Linked DNA regions of Homo sapiens: region 1 is linked to region 2. The links come from fine-mapping of genetic effects on plasma protein levels. A gene starts in region 2. The other region holds a variant in brackets. All regions are shown on one strand. Distances are from middle to middle.

Region 1 (2,873 bases), 21 kb after region 2:
AGACCGTGGGGAGGGAGTGGAGACAGATTGCGGGGAGAATGGACATGACTGGGGGAGTTGGTGGGGTGTTAGGGACAGCAAGGCATCAGGATGCATTTGCCAGTGCTACTGGGGAGGGGGACAGGAGCGTCCCCTGGGGCTAAGCCTGCAGTCCCGAGGGTCTCAGAGGTGTGTTCCTGAGTCCTAGGGTCTGCGGGCTGGGGCTGTAGGGGGCGTCTTGTTCTTGCCTAGCATTTCCCCACTGACTGTATTTTCTGGCCAGCAGCTGTGGTGCGTGGCTGGGGACTGAGTCAAGGATCTGGGGGGAGGGATTGGTCGGGTGTGTGCGTGGGACTGTGCGTGTGAGACCGCCCAGGGTGTGTACTGGCACGTGGGCATGCTGTGGGTGAGACAGCGTGTGTAACTGCATAGAGGATTATGGGGCATATTGCCTGACGTGCCCTGGTGAGTGTGACCGAGTGGGTGTGGGGCTGTGCATGTGTGTGTGTGGGCACGAGGGCTCACTCAGAGGACCTGCCTCAGAATGCAGGTGAGGATGGAGGATGGAGTGGCCCAGCAAACACGTGTGGGGCTGTCAGCGACTCCAGGTCAACACCTGTGGCGCCCAGCGACTAGACACTCACCTGTGTGTGATCTGACCCATGTGTGGCGGAGCCTGTGTGTGTGTGTGAGGCAGTGCTTAGTGTGCTCCTGGGGATGAGCGCATGCGTGTGAGGTGGCTGAGGCTGGGCCCCTGCCCGCGTGCGTGCCGGTGTGCACCGTGTCTGTGTGTGCACACCCAGTACTGACAGGCTTCCTTTCTGATTCCCCCAGGGTCTTACAGGAGAGGGGACCGTCCTGGGCTGGCC[T/C]GGACCATGGTGCTGCTCTGGGAGCCTGCAGGAGCCTGGCTTGCTCTGGGCCTGGCCCTGGCCCTGGGCCCCAGCGTGGCCGCAGCTGCCCCTCGGCAGGACTGCACGGGCGTGGAGTGCCCGCCGCTGGAGAACTGCATTGAGGAGGCGCTGGAGCCGGGTGCCTGCTGTGCCACGTGTGTGCAGCAGGGCTGCGCCTGCGAGGGCTACCAGTACTATGACTGCCTACAGGGTGGCTTCGTGCGCGGCCGCGTGCCCGCCGGTCAGTCCTATTTTGTGGACTTCGGGAGCACTGAGTGCTCCTGCCCACCAGGCGGCGGCAAGATCAGCTGCCAGTTCATGCTGTGCCCGGAGCTGCCGCCCAACTGCATCGAGGCTGTAGTGGTGGCTGACAGCTGCCCACAGTGCGGCCAGGTGGGCTGCGTCCACGCGGGCCACAAGTACGCCGCTGGCCACACTGTTCACCTGCCGCCCTGCCGGGCCTGCCACTGCCCTGACGCCGGTGGAGAGCTCATCTGCTACCAGCTCCCCGGTTGCCACGGGAACTTCTCAGATGCCGAGGAGGGTGACCCCGAGCGACACTACGAAGACCCCTACAGCTATGACCAGGAGGTGGCCGAGGTGGAAGCAGCAACAGCCCTGGGGGGTGAGGTCCAGGCGGGTGCAGTCCAGGCAGGCGCAGGGGGCCCCCCAGCTGCTCTGGGAGGTGGGAGTCAGCCACTGTCCACCATCCAGGCACCCCCCTGGCCAGCTGTCCTCCCCAGGCCCACAGCGGCTGCTGCCCTGGGTCCCCCAGCCCCAGTGCAGGCCAAAGCTAGGAGAGTGACCGAGGACAGTGAGGAGGAAGAAGAGGAGGAGGAGGAGAGAGAGGAAATGGCTGTCACTGAGCAGCTGGCAGCAGGTGGCCACAGGGGGCTGGATGGGCTGCCCACTACAGCCCCAGCTGGACCCAGTCTTCCTATCCAGGAGGAGAGGGCAGAAGCTGGGGCAAGGGCAGAAGCTGGGGCAAGGCCTGAAGAGAACCTCATCCTGGATGCCCAAGCCACGTCCCGCAGCACTGGGCCGGAGGGCGTGACGCATGCACCGAGCCTGGGCAAGGCTGCTCTCGTCCCAACTCAGGCCGTGCCTGGCTCTCCCAGGGACCCAGTCAAGCCCAGCCCCCACAACATCCTGTCCACATCACTGCCTGATGCAGCCTGGATCCCACCCACCCGAGAAGTGCCCAGGAAGCCGCAAGTTCTGCCCCATTCCCACGTGGAGGAGGACACAGACCCCAACTCTGTCCATTCTATCCCCAGAAGTAGCCCTGAAGGTAAGACCCTGTCCTGGTTCCTTCAGGGCACTTTGTGTGGGAAGGGCAGCCTTGGGCTCTGGCCGCTGCCCCAGGTCTCTGCCTGGGGCTGGGGATGCTGGACTGTGGGGCCAGGCCTAGGGTGGCCACCCCAGGCCCTTGGTTTGGGCAGGAGGCTGTGAGAGTGCATCTTCTCCCAGGCCCAGCTCTTGGGATGGGATGGGTGGGTGGGAGTGGGGTTCCTGTTGTGGGAGGTGCTGGGCCCCCTGGTAGGGCTGCGGTAGTGGTCAAGGGTCCAGAAGGTGCACATCTTCAGAGCTGGGGGCCCTGAGGAGGGTTCCTGCCTCAGCCCGGTAGGCCCCCACGTGTCCTGGCAGGAAATGCGAAGGGCGGTCTCTTCTCAGCTGCCCCGGTGGCTGGCCTGTGGCCTAGGAGCCTAGCATGGCCACCTCTGCCAATTTTTCAACAAATGTCAGCCAGAAAGCTGAATTTTATGTGACATCTTCCCATTTCTAAGTGTCTGCAGCAAATCCTAATCTCACAAGCATGTGTTGTAGAAAGAAGTGAACTCGTGGACAGAGGCGAGGTGGGTGGGCCATTTGAGCAGGGGCGCTGGCCATGCTGGGCCAGTGGAGGTGGTGGGGCCACACCAGCTGTACCCTCACTCCATGGAGGCCCCTCTCCGAGCTGGTCAGGCAGCTTCCCATCAGTCCTTCCAGCAGCACCGAGTGCTT
Region 2 (2,839 bases):
TAGATCAGAGATGGAGACCCCGAAAGAGACCCAGAAAGGGATCGGTGTGGGCTGGGGGAAGAGACACCCCGGGGGTCACACAGTGGTCACAGGCATCAGAGCTGGGCTGAGGAAAAGGACAAACTGAACCTGTTCCAAAGCTGGGGGCTCAGTACCGTCTGCCCAGGCACATGCAGCAGCAGTGGGGCTGCAGGCAGGCCCCCAGGGTAGGAAGCAAGGCGGGTGGGAGGCAGGGCCTGGCCTCTGGGCAGTTTTGTAGCCGGGCCCCTCAGGCCCTCACAATGTGCCCAAGGCTGCTGGGCCCATCTTCCAGGGGTGATCACTGAGGCTCAGGCTGGCTGAGGTGGCCGGACCCCAACCCCTGGCCCTGCCCTGTGGGCAGCAGTGCCAGGTCTGGCACTCAGAGGTTAGGCCGGGCGCAGGGAGGGTGCGGGCTCCGCAGCGAGCGCGCCGGGCGGCCTCTAGGAGCCGGGTCAGCGAGTCTGGGCTCTGAGCGAGCGGCGCCGGCCCGGCCCCCTCTCCGGCGGGCGGCCGAGACCCCGCCCCGGAGGCGGAGGCGGAGTCAGGGGAGGGGGCCGGGGGCCGGCTGGTCCCGCCTCTCGCGCCTCCGCCCCGCCCCGCGCGCACACAGCCAGGGGCCGCCCGGGCTCTCGACGCGCCGACGGCCGGGCGGACGGACGGACGGACGCCGAGCGCAGTGCCCCGCGGTGAGTGCACGCGGCCCCTCCCGCCCGGACTCATCCCCGTCGGTCCGCGCCTCGCAGCTCAGGACTCGGGGGCGCTCGGACGCACCGACGGCTCGGCGGACCCTCGGACGCGCCTCGCGGGCTGCCCGCGCCTCCACCCGCGCCGCCGGTCCGACCGGGTCTCGCTCTCCCGGTCCCAGCGCGGGGACGGCCCGCGAGCGCCGCGACCCAGTGTACAGATGCGGGCACAGAGGCCGGCGCGGGGTGGGGGCCAGGGGTCCGCGGGCGGGTTCCCCCACCCCAGGTCCGCAGCTTCCTCCGCTCTGGGTTTCACTTCTCCCCCCTGGGCCGGCTCCCACCAGTCATCCCCTCTGGTCCCACTGCCCACCCCCACCCCGACCGCAGGACCTTGCCGCCCCTCCAGTCCAGAGGGCCGGGTCAACCCCCTCGGGGAAAGAAGACTAGAGTCCCTGGTCTAACACTACCCCCTCCATCACCCCCAAGTCACACTCACCGCCACACACGCACTCACACAAGCAGAAGTTTCTGCACGCTCTGCATTGGCGCGCCCACCCTGCCTGTCACCACATCCTCCCTCTCCCAGCCCCATGCTCACCCCGCCAGCTCCCCCAGGCCAGAATCTCTCACACTCATCTCACGTCCCCTTAGCACACAATGCTCCACACACACATGCCTTGCACATTGGCACCCCTCCGAGGCATGCCTCTAGCAGACAGTTGTGTCTCTGATAAACACATGTGCCCTTACTGCCCTCTGACACGCACACACGTCCGCCACACAGGGGTAGCTATCACATGCATATCTCCATCATATGTATCACACATGTGTCTCTCACATGCGTGTGCTCCTCAAATACCTGGAATCACAAACACTGGGAGTGCCACACACTGTGAGTCTCACATACGAGTCACAGACCCCCACGACTTCACAGTCCCAGCCCCCCTGGCACTCCATGGGCAGTCCTCCCCTGTCCTAGGGGGTGGGGAGCCGATTTTGGAGGAGGGAGGTGGTTCCTCCTGACAGAGGCTGCTTACCATGGGACCTGGGTGGCTGTGGGGAGCATGGGGGTGGCTCAGCCTCAGGCTGGGCCTGACTCCTCACCTCCGTGCATCCTCTCTCCCTTCCCCTGCTCCAGTCTCCGAAATAGGGGTGCCCTCCCTCCCTTTTTTGCTGCCACAAGGAGTTGCCCATATCAGCTTTGCAGTGATCACTTGGGCCAGTCCCAAGCAGGCCTGAGCCAGCAGGCGTCCCCTGACAGGCCAAAAAGAGAAAAAGGGAAGTCAAACAGGATGGTTTGGGTGCTTGTGTCTACCCTGATGCCCCTGAGATGCTGGTCCGGGCCCTCCCAGAGGGAGCCCTGATGAATTGGGTGGCAGCTGAGAAGTGTTCCCTCAGCCTGGCATGGATTGGGAGCTGGTGTGTGTTTGTGGCTGATAGGGGCTCTGGGCCTTAACTTCCCCATATGCCAAATGGGGTGAAGACTCCCCAGCAGGAGGAAGAGAGGGAGGGGGAGCTACTCCCCTGGGGTGCACCCTTGACTTCCCGCCCTCCCCTTCTGCAGCTGAGCTGTGTGATGGGGGTGAGCAGGGGATGAAGTCAAAGAATCTTATTCTGGAGGCACAAACCTGCCAGCCCCGGCTGTGGCTGGCCCTGCATGTTTTGTTTGGCTCTCACCATGTTATTATTATTTTAAAAAATTAATTAGCTGCCTGCATTTACAAATTGGCAGTTTTCACGTAAAAGTCCGGATTTCCGTCTTCTCTTGAAAAGTCACAAGGTCTGGTAGTTCAGGATCTGCATCTCCTGGCTGGTGCTGCCCACCCCCAACCCAGGGGATGGGGCAGGGGCGCTGTTTGGTCCCCGTCCCCACCTGGCCCTCTCATGCCTTCTCAGCTCCTGCCTGGCCTGCGTGGCCTTTGTGCGGCTGTGACTGCTGCATGCATTGGGCTGATTTTGCTCCATTGCCCGCCTCAAGCATAGGCCCAGGCTGGTCCTCCATGCATGGCTGGGGAAGCCCTGGGCGGGCCTCCTACCCTTCGAGGCCTTAGTCGTTGAAGCAATGAGTGGTGCCCAGGGCCCTGGGCCACAGGGCATCTTTGTGATGGTGGCAGACACTTCCTGCTAGGCTGTGG

Direction of the effects. Alleles are on the strand shown, and positions count from the first base shown. The strength of an association depends on the size of the effect and on how common the allele is.
With allele C in place of T in region 1, the plasma level of the protein whose gene starts at base 624 in region 2 is lower (weak association).

The links. PIP is the posterior inclusion probability: the model's chance that the variant is causal. Protein levels are from antibody-based Olink assays in UK Biobank. Linkage for the fine-mapping came from a reference panel and not from the study's own genotypes, which makes the PIPs less certain.
Region 1: its variant is fine-mapped to the plasma level of the FBLN2 protein (UK Biobank, PIP above 0.99).

What each region holds. Positions count from the first base shown.
Region 1 is chr3:13,569,502-13,572,374 of GRCh38, forward strand. It overlaps FBLN2 (fibulin 2), which reads left to right. Exons shown (of 18, transcript NM_001004019.2): 2 at 814-2,160. The coding sequence starts at 855. Among named protein-coding and RNA genes, the nearest start is that of FBLN2, 22 kb to the left of the region's middle. RefSeq lists enhancers at 1-363, 1,968-2,684. The variant T/C (reference allele first, on the strand shown) is at 849.
Region 2 is chr3:13,548,502-13,551,340 of GRCh38, forward strand. It overlaps FBLN2 (fibulin 2), which reads left to right and starts at 624. Exons shown (of 18, transcript NM_001004019.2): 1 at 624-707. RefSeq lists enhancers at 1,987-2,595, 2,596-2,839.